4 linked regions of the Homo sapiens genome follow. The protein of the gene in region 4 purifies or fractionates together with the protein of the main gene of each other region. This does not show direct contact. Each region holds a gene or a part of one and is shown on either strand. Other genes may lie near its edges.

Region 1 (5,525 bases), on a different chromosome or scaffold from region 4:
TTTGCCAGTTGTTCAAGGCAGGTGGGTGAAATGCTCCCAGGGCCTGAAGAATAGGAGGCCACATCCTGGTGGAATCAAGAAAGATGAAGTCTTGGAGGGTAGGGAGGTCTGCCAACTGTGGGAATAAGAAGCTGTAGGAATAATATTAAAAGCCTGGGACAGTATAGGAAATAAAAGCCAAGAGGCCCTTGTGCATGTTTGAGCCACGCAGGGCACCTGGAGGCCTTCTGGGAGCCCAGGCTGGGAAAGCAAGTGGGCTTGGTTCAGGACAGGTCTTGAGTTGGCATTCGGAGTTTGGATTTTATTTGATGGACAAGGAATCCTGAAAGGTTTCTGAGCAGCAGTGAGACCCTCAGAGATGTATTTCTGGAAAGACATTTGTCCTATTGGCAGCAGGGCAGGGATGAGTTCTGGGGACAGCCAGAAGGCAGGGGGACAGGTGCAAGGTTTTATCAGGACAGGCTGAGGGCCCATCTCAGGTAAGCAGCCATGGAAAGAGGAAGGGAAGGCAAGGGAGGGGGAGGAATGGGCAAGGGCCCAATGCCAGCAGGGCCTGGCATTGCTTACCTGGGGAGGAGACAGTGAGGGTTCCCAGCCCGGTGGCTGGGAGGGCAACTGCACCATCACCAGGAATGGAACTCAGAGGAGGCAAGTTTTAAGAGGGGCTAGGAGAAGGCCCTGCCTGACGGCAGATGAGGCAAGCAAGCCCCACATCAGCATGGAGACACTGCTGGGCTCTCCTGGGCAGGCTAGCTAGGGGCTCTGATGGGTGTTCCCACCTGCCCACTGTGTGCTAAGGAGGGGAGGGTGCAGCAAAATACCGCCTGACATGAAAATAGTGCTGAGCTGTTCTCATGGGGTACAGGAGGGACATGCAGGCTCCATGTAGCACCAGGCCTCTGGCCCTACTGGAGGGGGCATTTTTAGAGACCAAGCTCAGTTATAGAGATCAAGGAGATAAGGTGGTCAGCACATCTAGGTGGGGCTATTTGAAGGGGGAGTGGAAAGTCGGAACTAGCGCTCCGAAAAAAGACACAGGCTAGTACTGGATGGTAAATGCCAGGTGTACCCACAGACACCTGAGATGGGGTGGTGATACAGGACATGACCCCAGGAGGCTGAGAGGGCAAAGGCAGCCAGGACATCAACATGGGAACTGAAGCCCCAGACACTGTCAGAGTTTACATTCAGGCAAGACTGGGGTTTAGGGCCTGGTCTGCCTTCTCAGCCATGACCCAGGCTCTTCTGGCAAGAACACAGGCCCTCCCACCTGTCTGCTGCTCAACACAGCCTTAAACTATTCTTCCAGCTGGTGGTCCCATTTGGCTATAAATCTCCTGACCTACTTCCCACTTGCTTTCTAAGCCCATCAAGAATCCCAACTCATGGCACTGGAAGGACCCAGCACAAGGAGATGCCACAGTGGATGATGACCGTGAAGTCAGTGCCCTCTAGCTAGCACCGAGGAAGCATCCTCACCTTCCTGCCATGAGTGTCCAAGATGCTGTGCCGAGATACATCGATCAGTTCTCCCTCCAGCAGGACACCATTTCCCCTGGGGATGAAAGGGAAAGAAAGGATAGCCAGTTTTGTCAGTCCTCAGCAAATCTCACCCGTGTCTCCTATTTACCCAGCCCTGAGAAGGCTGGGTACTGAGCAGCTCCTTTCCCCGTGCTTCCGACATAGGGATCTCCAAAGGGTCCCAAAGGCTGGGGCATTGCCCAGATGCCAGGAGGAACCTTGTCAGGCTGCCCTAAGATCAAGCTATGGCCCCCTCCTACAAGGCCACTGGGAGTTACTGGAACCAGAGCCTCAGTCTTATCTACAAAATGGGGAGGAAAACAGCTGCCTCACTCTGCTCCTCTGATGTTGACACAAGATCATGTGTGTGAAGGTGTTTTGTAAGCTATTAAGTGATTACTAAATACAAAAGATTTTACTTTTTTATTGGTCCAAATGTGAGGGTAGGTATCTAAGCTGCAATAAACTATTTTCCCTTTCCACCTGTTTTTAAACACTCTCATATTCCTTTTCTCATTCATATCCAGGTGGTCATTAACCCGAGGAAATGGTTATTACTGAGAGGTGAAGAAACCAAAACTCAGAAGTCTGAGACTAGTCCAAGATCACACGGTCCTTCACTGAGGGGAAGTGGACCCCTGGCTTCTCGACTCTGGTTTTCATAAAAGCAGAACGTGGAGGCTTCCTTTTTTGCATCCACAGAAATGGAGAAGCATGGGGACAGCTGAAGATGACAGTGGAATAGGGATGGGAGTGGGAAGTGAAAACTCTACCTAGCTGGTCTCTATCCAATTCTTCCCCACCCCCCACAATTATTTTTCTAAATATTTAACTGACAAAAGACTGTATATATTCAAGGTGCACAACGTGATGATTTAAGTACACACTATGTAATGATTACCACAGATTAATGAACACACCCACCAGACCCCATGCTGTACATTAGGTCCCCAGAAATTGTTTATTCTATAACTGAAAGTTTGTACCTTTGATCATTACCCCATCCCCATCCACTATCCCCTGGCAATCACTGTTCACTGTTCTACTGTTTCTTTTCTTTTGACACAGTCTTGCTCCATCGCCCAGGATGGAGTGCAGTGGCACAATCTCGGCTCACTGCAACCTCCACCTCCCAGGTTCAAGCGATTCTCATGCCTCAGCCTCCCAAATAGCTGGGATTACAGGTATCTGCCACCACGCCCGACTAATTTTTGTATTTTTAGTACAGACAGGGTTTCACCATTAGGCTGGTCTCAAACTCCTAACCTCAAGTGATCCACCCGCCTCGGCCTCCCAAAGTGCTGGGATTACAGGCGTGAACCACAGCGCCTGGTCTGTTCTGCCGTTTCTATGGTTCAACGCTTTTATAGGTTCCATATACGAGATCACACAGTATTTGTCTTTCTGTATCTGGCTTATTTCACTTAGCACAATTCTTCAGCGCAGTTGTAAATGGAATGGTCCCTTCGGCCTCATAACCCTGTGACGACAGGGCCTGGCCCTCCAAATCCTCCTCACCCAGGCAGGCCCTGCTCTGGACCAGCCCGCCCGCTGTTCCCGCCACAGCACGGCCACTGTCCCTTCTGGGGCAGGGCATGAGTCTGTGCAAAAGCAGCGCGGCAAGTAGCTGGAGTTTATAGTTACGCGGGTGGGGTGGGGCCGGAGGTCGGCGTGAGGCGAAGCCCAGCCTTCGGAGACCTGTCTGGGGGTCGGGACCCTCTCTCGAGGGCAGGCGGACAGGCGGGGAGCTTTAAGCCGATCTGTGTCATGGGGTCGCTGGGCGGGCGCGGCGGCAGGGGCGCCGGGAGCGGCGGACTGGAGGGGCGGACTGAAGGCGGAGAGGCGGCTTTGGCAACCCCAGTTTTCCCCCACCCGCATCCCACCCCCCCACCCGATCCTGTTGCGGGGTTCGAGCCGGGGCAGGGGAGGCCGACCCGAGGCCGTGAGCCCAGGCCTACCCCTGGTGGGCGGCGGGGTCCCAGGCCCCTGGCAGCCGGACGCTCTGCACCGCCTTGTTCCGGAGCGCGCCGTCGTGGTAGATGCGGCTCATTCTCCCGACCGCCCGGGCACCCCGGCACAGAGCCGGCGCACTGGGCTGGGGGCGCGGCGCGGGAAGTGCTGCAGGACGCGCGGGGACCCGCGATTCCCAGCCGGCGGATCCGGGAATGGCGCGGCCCGGCCCTCAGGCGTTCCTCGGCGGGATTTAAAGGGACCGAGCTCCATTCCTGCACGCCAGGCCGCGCGCGGCAGGAGTTGGGCTTCCGGGAGGACCCTGGCTGGGGGCTTAGCACAGTGGGGCAGAAAGGCCATGCTTTTCTCTTGTCTCTCTCTCTTCCTCATTCCTAGAGGAAGATCCCTGCCCCAGCACACGCACAAAAGGGAAATTGAGGCCCCAAGATCCTATTATAGAAGATCCTTTGTAGGATCAGCCCGGGAAGGATGGGTTTCTGGGAAGCAGGAATGGAGAACAGCCACTGGGGAGGATTGGGTGGTCAGCTTAGAAGCTGTCCATTATGCCCCGCCCGCGGCCCTACAATGGCTGAGTCAGGTATCCCAGGGATCTGTGACGAGGGAGCTGGGGCATGGGTGTCGGACCAAAGACGCCTAAGTTTGAATCCCAGCTGTGAGCTTGGGCAAGCTCCTCAACCTCTCTGAGCCCATGCTTCTTCGTCTGTAAAATGGGGTCAGTATCAGGGGGATTGTAAAGTTTAATGAGCTCACCCTTTCTACAACATAGCATTGCCCTCCCTCCTTCTTCCTGCACAGCTCCTGAACTCCTCCCTGGCCCCACAATGCCCTTTGCCCAAGTATGTCATAGTCCGCAGGTGCATTTTCCAAGCCTGGTACAGAAGATTCTTCTGACCCTGGGATTGTTGAGGAATCTTTGTTCTTTTGTTTGGCTTCTTCGTGCCAGGCCTCGGGGCAGGTGGGCCCATTCAGGGAGGCCAGGTGTACCCCGGGAGAGGGGGCGGCATTTAAAGGGGGTGGTGGCCAGGCAGGTGCCTAGGAGTCTAGCATGAGCTGTCAATGTTGGAAGAAGAAAGCACCCTCTCCCTTCCCTGCTACACACACACACACACACACACACACACACACACACACACAGACAATGACTTTCTTGGGTCCTAGGCACTTTTGTTTTCAAAGGACCCTTTCTCCATTAAAAATTTTTTAAAAAATTATTATCTTACCACTGGGTTGGCATAAAGATGAATATATGAATTATATATATATATATATATTTTTTTTTTTTTTTTTTTGAGACAGTCTTCCTATGTTGCCCAGGCTGGAGTGCAGTGGTGAATCTTGGCTCACTGTAACCTCTGCCTCCCAGGTTCTAGTGATTCTCCTGCCTCAGCCTCCTGAGTAGCTGGGATTACAGGCACTCACCACCACACCCGACTAATTTTTGTATTTTTAGTAGAGATGGGGTTTCACCATGTTGGCCAGGCTGGTCTCAAGCTCCTGACTTCATGTCACCACCTGCCTCTGCCTCCCAAAGTGCTAGGATTACAGGCCTGAGCCACTGCTCCCAGTCTAAAGTGTTTTCTTCAACCTAAACATATATTTTTTTTTCTGCATCCAATCATCCATTACTAAACATATTTTTAGGAAGAAAGAGCACCTGTAGTCCCAGCTACTCAGGAGGCTGAAGTGGGAGGATCACTTGAGCCCAGGAGTTTGAGTCCAGCCTAGGCAACATAGCGAAACCCTGTCTATTAAAAAAAATTAATGAAATTAAATTTAAATTTTAAAAGAATAAAAACATTTTGTGGACCGCTAAAAGTATGATGGGCCTAATGGATGAGTCAGCCCCACTCCTAGCTGGCCTACCTGGCTGCCCGGTGTATGTCTGAGAAGGAAAAACATAGAAAAGCCCTACTGGAAAGCCCCTCTGGGTAGAACTGTCCTTTGGCCCTCTCTGCTCAAAACCCTCCAGCTGCTCACAGCCACCTGGCTGGCATGTCCTCCTCCTCTTTCCCTTTTCTGTGTCACGTTCCCCC
Region 2 (3,920 bases), on a different chromosome or scaffold from region 4:
ACAGATAATGCTCTGAATTTGTTTACAAGGTCCTTGATGTGGAGAGAATGAGTAATACATTAAATGCTGGGGAAATAATTATCATTTAGTGAAAAATTAAGCATGCTTTTCTAAAATGTGGATGTTTAACAGAGCACAGCTGATTGGGAACACTGGCAGTTCAATGCAGCTGGAGTGTCTCACAGGGTGAAGAGGAACCCAGATCAAGTGGGAAATAGGGATTTCAAAAACCTTCTGAAAGGCTTTTAACATCAGGGCAAAGGTTTTACAGTGTTGTACTTTATATTCTTAATTTAAGCTTATCAACGGGGAGGATTCACATTGAAATGTCTGTTTTGCTAATGTAACAAGGAATAAAATAATTTATGACACAGCAAAAACTGGGGGCTATTTACAACCCCACCCTGCCTTGTGAGGATGCTGGGTCCTAAGGAAGGTCCTAGGTTTGCTAAATAGAGTAATGGGAATAGGAAACTGAAAGTTTACTTGCTTTGCGTAAGATAATATATTGCGGCAGGGAAGGGGTACAAGAAGATAAGAGCTAGAACCTGTGAGAAGGGAAAGAAGTGATAAAATAATTTTGGCTAAAATAAAGCAAGTTCTCAGGCCAGGCGTGGTGGCTCATGCCTGTAATCCTAGCACTTTGGGAGGCCAAAGTGGGAGGAATGCTTGAGGCCAGGAATTGGAGACCAACCAGGGCAGCATGTCAAGACCTGGTCTCTACAAGGAAAAAAAATTTTTTTAATTGACCAGTATATACTTACATACCTGCAGTGTTTAGAAAACCCGACTATAGGTGGTGTATTCCTGTAGTCCTAGTTACTCAGAAAGTTAAGGCAGGAGGATCGCTTGAACTTAGGAGGTCAAGGCTGCAGTGAGCCCTGTTCGTTCCACTGCACTCCAGCTTGGGGGACAGAGCAAAACCCTTTCTCAAGAAAAACCCAAACAAACAAAAAAGTGAAGCCAGTTCTTTAATTTCTATTGGAGATATCACACACGCTCCAAAGAGTGGCAAAGGTGAACATTCTTTGGAGCTATTATATTTCTAATGTAACATCAATGGCCATTTACTCCCAAAGGGAAACATCTTTTTTTTTTTTTTTTTTTAAGATGGAGTCTGGCTCTGTCACCCAGGTGGGAGTGCAATGGCAGGATCTTGGCCCACTGCAACATCAGCCTCCCAGGTTTAAGCAATTCTCCTGCATCAGCCTCCAGAGTAGCTGGGATTACAGGTGCCCGCCACCATGGCTAGCTAAATTTTTGTAATTTTTAGTAGAGACAGGGTTTTACCATGTTGGCCAGGCCGGTCTCGAACCCCTAACCTCAAGTGATCCGCCCGCCTCACCCTCCAGAAGTGCTAGGATTACAGGCCTGAGCCACCGCACCCGGCCCTGCTATTTTTTTCTATGTAGTTGTTTCAGTAATACCATATGAGCAGAGAATACTATTGATTCATTCAATTGAAGAAATCTGAATAAATTAGTAAATATAATAATTCTTCAAAAGAGGACCACTTTATGTTTCCAATAGATTATATAATTGAATTCAGGTAACGTAGAGTTATTCAGACTTTTTTTTTTAAATAACGGAATTTTGCAAAAAAACAGGTTGCATCGTTTTCTACAGAGAATATTCAGATGTGTAGAGGCAAAGAGACTTTCTTGAAAGGTTTTTATTTCCTGTTAAATTTGTGAGGAAAACTCCTGAGAAAGGAAAGATTTACTTTTGAAGGAAGAAAGAACATAACCCAAAGAAATTTGAAAGATTCAAAAAGAGTTTTCCAAATGTATTCTCATTTCTTTCTCATATTTGTTCAAGGTCTTAGTTTCCAAGCATTCAAAATTAAATCTTGTTTGCCTAACTCTTCTAACATCTATTACCAACCTAACATATTACAATTCTGTTTAAAATGTGCAGTTCTAAATGTTCTTGCGTGCCTCACTGTGGAAAGTGTGGTGCATGGAACTGCAGCGTCAGTATCACCCAGAAGTATAATTACAAGAAGTGCAGAGTCCTTGGCCTTACCCTGTACCTACAGAAGTCCGCTTTTGGGCAAGATCCCCAGATGATTCATATGTGTATTAATATTGAAAAAATTGGAACTAGTAAGTCCTAGAGGAGGTAAATTTTAAGGGCTTTTTAAGGGAACTTCCAAGTGTGAAGACATTTCTGGAGATGACAAGTCAACATAGCATGGGATCTTGGCTAGACAAGGAAAGCGAGAGAACATTAAATAAACACAAGCAACGACAAACCACCTATGTTATAATTTTATCCTGGACCATCCAAAGTTTACTCTTGGTCACGCTGTCTAACCCAGCCTGCCTCCTGGCACTTGCTAGTTAGAACCAGGGAAGAGAAAACTAATATGTGTTAGGTATTATAATTTCCTTATGTCACATAAATTTTGGTGCCATAGCTAGCAATGTTTCTTAATATCACATCAGTACAATGTGTCCATTGCCTTCTGTAACATTTTTAATGCTATCAATAATACATTGACATTATAAAAATAAATGAATGTGGTCAATATTTTGCAAAGAGCTTCTCTTCATCAGCTATATCTATACACCTGCAGTGTTTAGAAAGCCTGACTACAAAAACTGGCTCTACTGCTTATGTCTTGCTCTACTTGCTTATTCTACCCATGGTAGAATTATATAGTCATATTGTGTCCGGAGTTGGTTCCTTCCAGTGGGTTCATGGTCTCACTGACTTCAAGAATGGAGCCACGGACCTTTGCGGTGTTACAACTCTTAAAAATGGCACAGACCCAAAGAGTAAGGAGCAGTAAGAGTGAAAACAAAGCTTCCACAGGTGGAAGCAAACCCCAGTGGGATGCCTCTGCTGGCTTGGGGGTGGCCAGCTTTTATTCCCTTATTTGTCCCCTCCCATGTTCCATTTTTGTCCTATCAGAGTGCCTTTTTTCAATCCTCCCTGCGATTGGCTACTTTTAGACTCCTGCTGATTGGTGCATTTTACAGAGCACTGATTGGTGCATTTTACAGAGCGCAGTTTGGTGCATTTTACAATCCTCTTGCTAACTACAGAGCACTGATTGGTGTGTTTTACATTCCTAGCTACAGAGTGCTAATTGGTGCATTTTACAAACCTCTTGCTAGCTGCAGAATGCTGATTGGTGCGTTTTACAATCTTAGCTACAGAACGCTGATTGGTGCGTTTTACAATCCTAGCTACAGAGTGCTGATTGGTGCATTTTACAATCCTCTTGTAAGACAGAAAAGTTCTCCAAGTCCCCACTCGACCCAGGAAGTCCAGCTGGCTTCACCTCTCAATATTACATCTGCTTTCATGACCGGAAAATGGAGATTGGAATAGTTTCTACTTTACAGGGTGGTTGTGAAGATTAAATGAGCTAAATTTTACAAAGAATTTATTCCAGTTCTTGGCCCCCATTAAACATTCTAAGAGCAATGAGCAGAATTTTCTAAGTCACCCCAGGCTATCTGGGCCATAACTTAGGTGGGACAGACCTCTCACACCTTCCCAGTGGAAGGGTCTGTGCATGCAATTCCAACTTCACTGAAGAAGCAGGCTTCCACCCATTGACATTCCTCCTAAACCATGATCTCCAGGTGTTTGGCAGATAATATTTCTAGATGACTTCTGTGAACAGCTGACACCCTATATCCAGTTTTCTTGGTGCCAAGTAATCTGATTACTGATGAGGCTGGTTTTTCCTCTCTGTCCTGTAAATGGTAAAATATCAGGAAGCCAGTATCCTCAACTAGCACCTCAGCCCCAGCAAGCTTCTCCATGAAAAGAGAGTGTTGTATCATGAGCCTACTTCTTAACATATATCACATGACAGTAAAATTTGTCCTGAAGCCTAGTGCGAGAGAAGTTTAGGTCCAAGTAGGACATAATGTATGACATGCTGGATGTCATGCATGTCTTAC
Region 3 (4,953 bases), on a different chromosome or scaffold from region 4:
GCCTCCCAGTTAGGCTGCTCAGGGGTCAGGGGTCAGGGACCCACTTGAGGAAGCAGTCTGCCCGTTCTCAGATCTCCAGCTGTGTGCTGGGAGAACCACTGCTCTCTTCAAAGCTGTCAGACAGGGACATTTAAGTCTGCAGAGGTTACTGCTGTCTTTTTGTTTGTCTGTGCCCTGCCCCCAGAGGTGGAGCTTACAGAGGCAGGCAGGCCTCCTTGAGCTGTGGTGGGCTCCACCCAGTTCGAGCTTCCCAGCTGCTTTGTTTACCTAAGCAAGCCTGGGCAATGGCGGGCGCCCCTCCCCCAGCCTCACTGCCACCTTGCAGTTTGATCTCAGACTGCTGTGCTAGCAATCAGCGAGACTCCGTGGGCGTAGGTCCCTCCAAGCCAGGTGCAGGATATAATCTCCTGGTGCGCCGTTTTTTAAGCCCGTGGGAAAAGCGCAGTATTCGGGTGGGAGTGACCTGATTTTCCAGGTGCCGTCTGTCACCCCTTTCTTTGACTAGGAAAGGGAACTCCCTGACCCCTTGCGCTTCCTGAGTGAGGCAATGCCTTGCCCTGCTTCGGCTCGCACACGGTGCGTGCACCCACTGACCTGCGCCCACTGTCTGGCACTCCCTAGTGAGATGAACCTGGTACCTCAGATGGAAATGCAGAAATCACCCGTCTTCTGTGTCCCTCACGCTGGGAGCTGTAGACCGTACCTGTTCCTATTCGGCCATCTTGGCTTCTCCTCTTATCCCAGAAATTTCTTAAGTATTTTGTTGACCTGCATACTTCCTTGAATCAAAATGTTGAGGTTAATAGCTAACCTACTGCTTGCTGCTTCTTCTAGCACTATTATATTTTAGGAACCTAATGGCATCTAAGGATTTCACCGTGTAATAACAGTGGGAATTTATTTTTCTTGGTGTTTGGAAACTCTCAGGAATTTTTTTTTCCTTTTTCTTATTTTTCTCTCCCTCTCAATTATAGGTTGAAGCTCCATTCATACCAAAGTTTAGAGGCTCTGGAGATACCAGCAACTTTGATGACTATGAAGAAGAAGATATCCGTGTCTCTATAACAGAAAAATGTGCAAAAGAATTTGGTGAATTTTAAAGAGGAACAAGATGACATCTGAGCTCACACTCAGTGTTTGCACTCTGTTGAGAGATAAGGTAGAGCTGAGACCGTCCTTGTTGAAGCAGTTACCTAGTTCCTTCATTCCAACGACTGAGTGAGGTCTTTATTGCCATCATCCCGTGTGCGCACTCTGCATCCACCTATGTAACAAGGCACCGCTAAGCAAGCATTGTCTGTGCCATAACACAGTACTAGACCACTTTCTTACTTCTCTTTGGGTTGTCTTTCTCCTCTCCTATATCCATTTCTTCCTTTTCCAATTTCATTGGTTTTCTCTAAACAGTGCTCCATTTTATTTTGTTGGTGTTTCAGATGGGCAGTGTTATGGCTACGTGATATTTGAAGGGAAGGATAAGTGTTGCTTTCAGTAGTTATTGCCAATATTGTTGTTGGTCAATGGCTTGAAGATAAACTTTCTAATAATTATTATTTCTTTGAGTAGCTCAGACTTGGTTTTGCCAAAACTCTTGGTAATTTTTGAAGATAGACTGTCTTATCACCAAGGAAATTTATACAAATTAAGACTAACTTTCTTGGAATTCACTATTCTGGCAATAAATTTTGGTAGACTAATACAGTACAGCTAGACCCAGAAATTTGGAAGGCTGTAGATCAGAGGTTCTAGTTCCCTTTCCCTCCTTTTATATCCTCCTCTCCTTGAGTAATGAAGTGACCAGCCTGTGTAGTGTGACAAACGTGTCTCATTCAGCAGGAAAAACTAATGATATGGATCATCACCCAGATTCTCTCACTTGGTACCAGCATTTCTGTAGGTATTAGAGAAGAGTTCTAAGTTTTCTAAACCTTAACTGTTCCTTAAGGATTTTAGCCAGTATTTTAATAGAACATGATTAATGAAAGTGACAAATTTTAAATTTTCTCTAATAGTCCTCATCATAAACTTTTTAAAGGAAAATAAGCAAACTAAAAAGAACATTGGTTTAGATAAATACTTATACTTTGCAAAGTCAAAAATGGCTTGATTTTTGGAAACAATATAGAGGTATTCATATTTAAATGAGGGTTTACATTTGTTTTGTTTTGTAACCGTTAAAAAGAAGTTGTTTCCAGCTAATTATTGTGGTGTACTATATTTGTGAGCCTAGGGTAGGGGCACTGCTGCAACTTCTGCTTTCATCCCATGCCTCATCAATGAGGAAAGGGAACAAAGTGTATAAAACTGCCACAATTGTATTTTAATTTTGAGGTATGATATTTTCAGATATTTCATAATTTCTAACCTCTGTTCTCTCAGTAAACAGAATGTCTGATCGATCATGCAGATACAATGTTGGTATTTGAGAGGTTAGTTTTTTTCCTACACTTTTTTTTGCCAACTGACTTAACAACATTGCTGTCAGGTGGAAATTTCAAGCACTTTTGCACATTTAGTTCAGTGTTTGTTGAGAATCCATGGCTTAACCCACTTGTTTTGCTATTTTTTTCTTTGCTTTTAATTTTCCCCATCTGATTTTATCTCTGCGTTTCAGTGACCTACCTTAAAACAACACACGAGAAGAGTTAAACTGGGTTCATTTTAATGATCAATTTACCTGCATATAAAATTTATTTTTAATCAAGCTGATCTTAATGTATATAATCATTCTATTTGCTTTATTATCGGTGCAGGTAGGTCATTAACACCACTTCTTTTCATCTGTACCACACCCTGGTGAAACCTTTGAAGACATAAAAAAAACCTGTCTGAGATGTTCTTTCTACCAATCTATATGTCTTTCGGTTATCAAGTGTTTCTGCATGGTAATGTCATGTAAATGCTGATATTGATTTCACTGGTCCATCTATATTTAAAACGTGCAAGAAAAAAATAAAATACTCTGCTCTAGCAAGTTTTGTGTAACAAAGGCATATCGTCATGTTAATAAATTTAAAACATCATTCGTATAAAATATTTTAATTTTCTTGTATTTCATTTAGACCCAAGAACATGCTGACCAATGTGTTCTATATGTAAACTACAAATTCTATGGTAGCTTTGTTGTATATTATTGTAAAATTATTTTAATAAGTCATGGGGATGACAATTTGATTATTACAATTTAGTTTTCAGTAATCAAAAAGATTTCTATGAATTCTAAAAAATATTTTTTTCTATGAAATTACTAGTGCCCAGCTGTAGAATCTACCTTAGGTAGATGATCCCTAGACATACGTTGGTTTTGAGGGCTATTCAGCCATTCCATTTTACTCTCTATTTAAAGGCCGTGAGCAAGCTTGTCATGAGCAAATATGTCAAGGGAGTCAATTTCTGACCAATCAAGTACACTAAATTAGAATATTTTTAAAGTATGTAACATTCCCAGTTTCAGCCACAATTTAGCCAAGAATAAGATAAAAACTTGAATAAGAAGTAAGTAGCATAAATCAGTATTTAACCTAAAATTACATATTTGAAACAGAAGATATTATGTTATGCTCAGTAAATAATTAAGAGATGGCATTGTGTAAGAAGGAGCCCTAGACTGAAAGTCAAGACATCTGAATTTCAGGCTGGAAAACTATCAGTATGATCTCAGCCTCAGTTCTCTTGTCTGTAAAATGGAAGAACTGGATTAGGCAGTTTGTAAGATTCCTCCTAACTTTCACAGTCGATGACAAGATTGTCTTTTTATCTGATATTTTGAAGGGTATATTGCTTTGAAGTAAGTCTCAATAAGGCAATATATTTTAGGGCATCTTTCTTCTTATCTCTGACAGTGTTCTTAAAATTATTTGAATATCATAAGAGCCTTGGTGTCTGTCCTAATTCCTTTCTCACTCACCGATGCTGAATACCCAGTTGAATCAAACTGTCAACCTACCAAAAACGATATTGTGGCTTATGGGTATTGCTGTCTCATTCTTGGTATATTCTTGTGTTAACTGCCCATTGGCCTGAAAATACTCATTGTAAGCCTGAAAAAAAAAATCTTTCCCACTGTTTTTTCTGCTTGTTGTAAGAATCAAATGAAATAATGTATGTGAAAGCACCTTGTAAACTGTAACCTATCAATGTAAAATGTTAAGGTGTGTTGTTATTTCATTAATTACTTCTTTGTTTAGAATGGAATTTCCTATGCACTACTGTAGCTAGGAAATGCTGAAAACAACTGTGTTTTTTAATTAATCAATAACTGCAAAATTAAAGTACCTTCAATGGATAAGACAATTGATTGAGTCGTGAATTCTACTTGGTGCCCTCATCTCCTGATTTATTTTCCGCTGATACAAGAGATGCTTATAGATTCCTAGTTTTTATGTGTTTGGGTTGATTTCTGGGTGGTGGGAGCAGAGCACATTGGGGAGGAATATATCCGCCAGTCTACTCACACTGGATGTTTACTAAGAAACTGCTAGATTCATTTAATAGTTTCTCAAAAGTGTTTCTACTTCTTTCTCATTTCTCATATTGGTTCAGATTACTGCTAACATAATGTTCTAAATATTCATATTTAAAGGATTTGATTCTTCAAGAGCACTCATCCTTCTATTGTAACAATGAAATATTAATTTCTAATTTTTTCTTCAGGAGTGTTTTTGAGCTTCACATTACCTCTTTTCATTTTAGACAGGTTAATTAGTGTGTATTTCCATAGTTGTCTTTTACCTCAAGAAATAATCATTTCTTTAGGTAATTATTTTAATGGCTTGCCATTTTGTATGATTGTTCTTGCAAACATTTCTATTTATGCATTTTATAACATGGAGCTTACTATTTTTATACCAGTGCTCGCTTCATTTTATCATTATCAGGGCTTAATATAAATGCAGTTTTCTCATTTCCTTGTAAAACTAATTACAAAAATCTAGGTATGTCTTTACTGAAGAA
Region 4 (5,472 bases):
TTTTGGGTTTTTTTTGTTGTTGTTTTCATTTAATTCAAAAACCTGGAAAGTAGCCAGCAGTAGGTTCTGGTTTGGGGGGAAAGACATGGAGAGTATACAACCTTCTGGACACCAGTATTAATAGCTAGCTAAGATTTCATTATTGACTGTCCTTTGCCTTAAGAGCTGGCTATGCACTGAGTAATTTTAAAGCATACAAGATCAGCAGACAAACAGATCAGTTCCCGAGAGTCCTGGTTTTTTCTCTTTATTCACCTGGGTTAGTGGCTCAGTCTGTACTTAGGTTGATAACTAACAATCTGTTCTCTCACTTGGAATTTGGCATCCTTTTGCTCTCTTGAAAACAAAACATGATTAAGTACAATGTAGGATCTGGAGGAGAACAGAGAACATATTAAGGGTGTAGTCAAGTCCTAAAAAAGGATGAGCTTTGATTAAAGATTCTCGGCCAGGCATAGTGGCTCATGCCTATAATCCCAGCACTTTGGGAGGACGAGGCGGGTGGATCATCCAAGGTCAGTAGTTCAAGATCAGCCTGACCAACATGGAGAAACCCCATCTCAACTAAAAATACAAAAAAAAATTAGCCGGGCATGGTGGCGCATGCCTATAATCCCAGCTACTTGGGAGGCTCAGGCAGGAGAATCACTTGAACCCAGGAGGCGGAGGTTGTGGTGAGCCGAGATCGCGCCATTGCACTCTGTCCCAGGCATAAAAAGATACTCATCTCAGTTTTGTGACTTGTTTGGTGACTAAATCCACTTCCCCTCTGTCTCTACTTTCCCATCCACCAAATGAAAGTTAGGAAGAATGCCAACTTAGGAAGAGCTTGGCAAGTGCAGTACTTTAAAAATAATGAAATTATCATGGCCTTTGGATTAACGTATTTGGTTTTGTTTTGTTTTTATTTTCTAGTTATTAAAGAGGGTGTACGGGAGTTTCTTGGTAAATCCAGAATCAGGTATGTAGTCATGTGAGCAACTATGGAATGACATGGGAAGAGAGGTGTCCTTTTTATATTATGCTTTTTTTACCCAAAGGATTTCGTTTAAATATTATTACAAATATTTCTGCATGAGCCCATTCCTAATTTCAACTCCGTCCATAAAAATAGCTTTTAAGGGGCTTTGCTTTGTCCAATATGGAACACAGTAGAGGTACAAAATTGATGTGTGACATTTTTAACATTTACTTGATGGGGCCACATGACTCTTACTTAATCTTTCAGCCAGAGGGCCACATTTGTTTGTTCATGGTGATTAAAATGGCTTTGAAAAGAATGAGCAAACATTGATTCCCACCCTCGGCCCTTAGTAATTCTGCATACTACATATTTGGAGAAAGAAGAGGAATATTCACCACACTATTCTTGTGATTTCAAGTAATAAAAATCAGACCCTTTCTTAATCCAGTCTTCTAATAGGTTGTCTCAACATTCATGGCCAGAGGAATTGAAAGGCACCGTGTCATCCTTGAATAGAACAGCTATGTTATACTGCTTTAAAAAGGAGGTTTAAAGTGGAAAAACTGAACAGCCTTTTTACCCTGTGATTCAGTGGCATGTCTCAAATTCTGAGGCATTTAGCAGGACCCCAAAGTGAGAACCAGGTAGTAAGACCATTGGAACATAATATTTTTTACTCAACTATTACAACTTTGGTACCTTGATTAGAAAAGTCTTCTAAGAAGGAAGTTCTCTGTCACTCTTAACAGCAGTTACTTGTGCTAGCTTATTTCATCACCTCACCTATTTTTTCAGACAGTCTCATTCTGTTGCCCAGGCTGGAATGCAGTGGTACAGTCATAGCTCACTGCAGCCTCCTCCAAATCTTGGGCTCAAGCAATCCTCCCGCTTTAGCCTCTCCGGTAGCTGGGAACTACAGGCACATGCCACCATACCCAATTAATTTTTTTAATATTTTGTAGAAACAGAGTCTCACTGTCTGCTGCCCATACTGCCAAAACAGAGTAAGGAGGTCTCAAACTCCTAGCCTTGAGCAATCTACCCACCTCAGCCTCCGCCTCCCAGAGAGTTGGGATCACAGGCATGAGCCACCATACCCAGCACCTTTTTTTTTTTTAATCTCCAAATTGGCGGGATGAATGTGTCACAGAAATAAAAGCCAAGATAACACTGTAGGCTTTTGGCAAAATCAAGGTATTAAAAGAAAGAAACAAACAGATCTAGAACAGAAAAATCATGTCCAAAGTCTTGGGCATGCTTGTCACAGCCAACATCCTGACATGGAAAGTTTATGTTTCTGTCCCTGGGCCTCCTTCTACCTCCCACTAAATCATAGACATTGCCAGATTGCAGACCCTGTCTTCATAGAAGTGTGAAATGTAAAAGTGTGTGAAAGTAGTGTCTCAACCAGGTGCAGTGGCTCACACCTGTAATCCCAGCACTTTGGGGAGGCCAAGGTGAGTGAATTGCTTGAGCTCAGAAGTTCAGGACCAGCCTGGGCAGCATAATGAGATACCTGTCTCTATAAAAAATACAGAAATTAGCCAGGCATGGTGGCAGCCACCTGTAATACCAGGTACTCAGGTGGCTGAAGCACGAGAATCGCTTGAACCCAGGAGGCAGAGGTTGCAGTGAGCTGAGATTGCGCCACTGCCCTCTAGCCTAGGCGACAGAGCAAGATTCAGTCTCGAGAAAAAAAAAAAAAAGACCGTAGAGTCTCTCCTCCTCTTTTTTAATGGGTTTATCTAGGCACGTTTGGAAAACTCAGCAAGTTATACTAGATTTTTACTTCTCTTCATCCTCAGTATATTCTGTTCATCATGTTAGAAGCCTTACTTAAAGACAGACTTTACCTTAGCTATAGTTTTATTTGCTCTTATTTGGCTTCCTAAAACTAGCAAACCTCAGCTCTAAATCTTTTCTTTTTTAATCTAACCTTGTAATCTGTGTGCTTATTTGGTTTTCAAGTACCCAAAATAGAATGATGATTGATATTATTTAATACTGGAGTGCCTCTCCAGTATTAAATAAAATGTGCTAAGCATTATCTAGAGCAAAGATTTAGCCCATCCTCCCGAAGAGCCCATGCTCAACAAAAAACACAGACCTCAGCCGGGCGCGGTGGCTTATGCCTGTAATCCCAGCACTATCGGAGGCCAGGGCGGGCGGATCACCTGCATTCAGGAGTTCAAGACCAGCATGACCAACATGGAGAAACCCCGTCTCTACTAAAAGTACAAAATTAGCCAGGCCTGGTGGCGCATGCCTGTAATCCCAGCTGCCTAGGAGGCTGAGGCAGGAGAATCGCTTGAACCTGGGAGGCGGATGTTGTGGTGAGCCGAGATCATGCCATTGCACTCCAGCCTGGGCAATAAGAGTAAAACTCCATCTCAAAAAAAAAAAAATACAGATCTCAGGAATGCTTTTGGGAAAAAATGAAATAGTAATGAGGTTTCAGATACTTAGAAGTGTGAAAGCCATACAGTTCTGGTGAAGTTATTCCCGTCAGTTGCCTAGAATATAAAATGATCCTCAGTGATGTAGAAATATTCTTGCAAAAACATCTCTAGGCAGTTTGACACTTATTAATCATTTGATTCTATAATCAAGTGTTCCAGCCGGCTTCTGGGAATTCATAGTGGACATGCTGTAAAAAGGCAGGTCATCCAATGGTTTCAGTCCATGTTCTGCACCCGTATTGATGACCTGTCATGTTCCACACACTTTAAGTATTGAACATTCTTTTAATGCTCACAACATTCTCCCCTATCTCCGCACCCCCTGCCCTGCTCCTTTTTCTTTTTTTCTTTTTTTTTGAGACAGAATTTCACTCTTGTTGCTCAGGCTGGAGTGCCGTGGCGCGATCTCAGCTCATTACAACCTCCACCTCCCGGGTTCAAGCAATTCTCCTGCCTCAGCCTCCGGAGTACCTGGGACCACAGGCGTGTACCACCACACCCAGCTAATTTTGTATTTTTATTAGAGACGGGGTTTTGCCATATTGGCCAGGCAGGTCTCGAACTCCTGACCTCAGGTGATCCACCCACCTTGGCCTCCCAAAGTGCTGGGAATACAGGCTTGAGCCACTGTGCCCAGACCACCCTACCTGCCCCCCACCACCAATTTTTTTTTTTTTTTAACAGATGAGGAAATTAACAAGTCAGGCAATTTTTTTTGTTTTTGTTTTTTTTTTTTGGAGCTGGAGTCTCGCTCTGTTGTGCAGTGGTGCAATATCAGCTCGCTGTAACCTCCACCTCCTGGGTTCAAGCAATTCTCCTGCCTCAGCCTCCCAAGTAGCTAGGATTACAGGCGCCCGCCACCATGCCTGGCTAATATTTGTGATTTTAGTAGAGACAGGGTTTTGCCATGTTGGCCAGACTGCTCTCAAAACTCCTGACCTCAGGTGATCTGCCCACCTTGGCCTCCCAAAATGCTGGGATTACAGGTGTGAGCCACCACACCCAGCAGTTTTTTTAAGGTCACAAAATGACAAGACTAGGATTTGGACCCAGTTCTGTTCGACTCAAAATAGAGTGCCCTACACTTATGTGTCATGCTGCATTTGGCAAGTCACGTCACTTCTTTGAATCTCCTTTTCCCTCTGCAAAACAGTAACCTTATCTAGCCTGCAGACTTCAAAGGTGGTTATGGAGATCAAATGAAGTAAAATGTTTTAAAAATTGTACAATATATACCAATAAAAGCTATTGGGGAGGTATATGTATGAACAGGTAGTTGGTTTTTCTACCCTGCCACCTCATAAAGAGTTTGCAGTGGCACGTAGAAGGGTTTATCTTATTATCACAAAGCTACCCATTTGCTGGCCATACTGATACTTGGCACATTAAACTATCAGAGAAATATATGTGGCTCCTTTACAACTGTGTCTAGAAGGGTACATTTCCAATCAGAGTTCCCAGGTTCTGACTTTCTCCCATTACATATTTGTAATTAGTCATCTTTGATACTGATTCAAATTTTTGATTAACATTAATTATATATATTTACAAGAATCTTATAAAAATTAAGATTTTATTTCACCTCATTTTGCCCTGTGAGATAGATGGAAATAGACTATATTCTACCCAGGTTAAAAGTACAGATAATGAGACAAAATGTCAATAGAACCTGAAAAAAGATTTTTTTAGTTGCCTCTAGTCTCTGTTTACTTGGTATAGATAGTATGCTGCTTTTTTTTTTTTTTTTTTTTTTAAATGTAACTGCTGGGTTGTTTTTTGTTTCTTGTTTTTTCTTTCCCTCCAGGATACAATGTCTCTTTGCTATATGACCTTGAAAATCTTCCGGCATCCAAGGATTCCATTGTGCATCAAGCTGGCATGTTGAAGCGAAATTGTTTTGCCTCTGTCTTTGAAAAATACTTCCAATTCCAAGAAGAGGGCAAGGAAGGAGAGAACAGGGCAGTTATCCATTATAGGGATGATGAGACCATGTGAGTATAGAATTTGGTCCTGAAGCCTGGATATGGCTGCTACACCACCATGGCACTT

What was found.
Region 1: the proteins of ARPC2 (region 4) and ARPIN purify together in Homo sapiens (co-immunoprecipitation; one study listed by IntAct). This does not show direct contact.
Region 2: the proteins of ARPC2 (region 4) and HCN1 purify together in Homo sapiens (co-immunoprecipitation; one large-scale study listed by IntAct). This does not show direct contact.
Region 3: the proteins of ARPC2 (region 4) and PRKACB fractionate together in Homo sapiens (co-fractionation; one large-scale study listed by BioGRID). This does not show direct contact.

What each region holds. Positions count from the first base shown.
Region 1 is NC_000015.10:89,909,265-89,914,789, forward strand, and holds the start of ARPIN (arpin), read right to left. Parts: upstream 3,689-5,525; 5' UTR 3,572-3,688; coding exon 3,480-3,571; intron 3,424-3,479; exon of another isoform or gene 2,788-3,423; intron 1,556-2,787; coding exon 1,480-1,555; intron 1-1,479. Other genes in the region: ARPIN-AP3S2 (uncharacterized protein LOC100526783), read right to left, coding at 1,480-1,555, 3,480-3,571. UniProt on the Homo sapiens protein: Regulates actin polymerization by inhibiting the actin-nucleating activity of the Arp2/3 complex; the function is competitive with nucleation promoting factors.
Region 2 is NC_000005.10:45,253,560-45,257,479, reverse strand, and holds the end of HCN1 (potassium/sodium hyperpolarization-activated cyclic nucleotide-gated channel 1), read left to right. Parts: 3' UTR 1-2,532; downstream 2,533-3,920. UniProt on the Homo sapiens protein: Hyperpolarization-activated ion channel that are permeable to sodium and potassium ions. Displays lower selectivity for K(+) over Na(+) ions.
Region 3 is NC_000001.11:84,234,206-84,239,158, forward strand, and holds the end of PRKACB (cAMP-dependent protein kinase catalytic subunit beta), read left to right. Parts: intron 1-974; coding exon 975-1,100; 3' UTR 1,101-4,293; downstream 4,294-4,953. UniProt on the Homo sapiens protein: Mediates cAMP-dependent signaling triggered by receptor binding to GPCRs.
Region 4 is NC_000002.12:218,233,437-218,238,908, forward strand, and holds part of ARPC2 (actin-related protein 2/3 complex subunit 2), read left to right. Parts: intron 1-915; coding exon 916-961; intron 962-5,227; coding exon 5,228-5,414; intron 5,415-5,472. UniProt on the Homo sapiens protein: Actin-binding component of the Arp2/3 complex, a multiprotein complex that mediates actin polymerization upon stimulation by nucleation-promoting factor (NPF).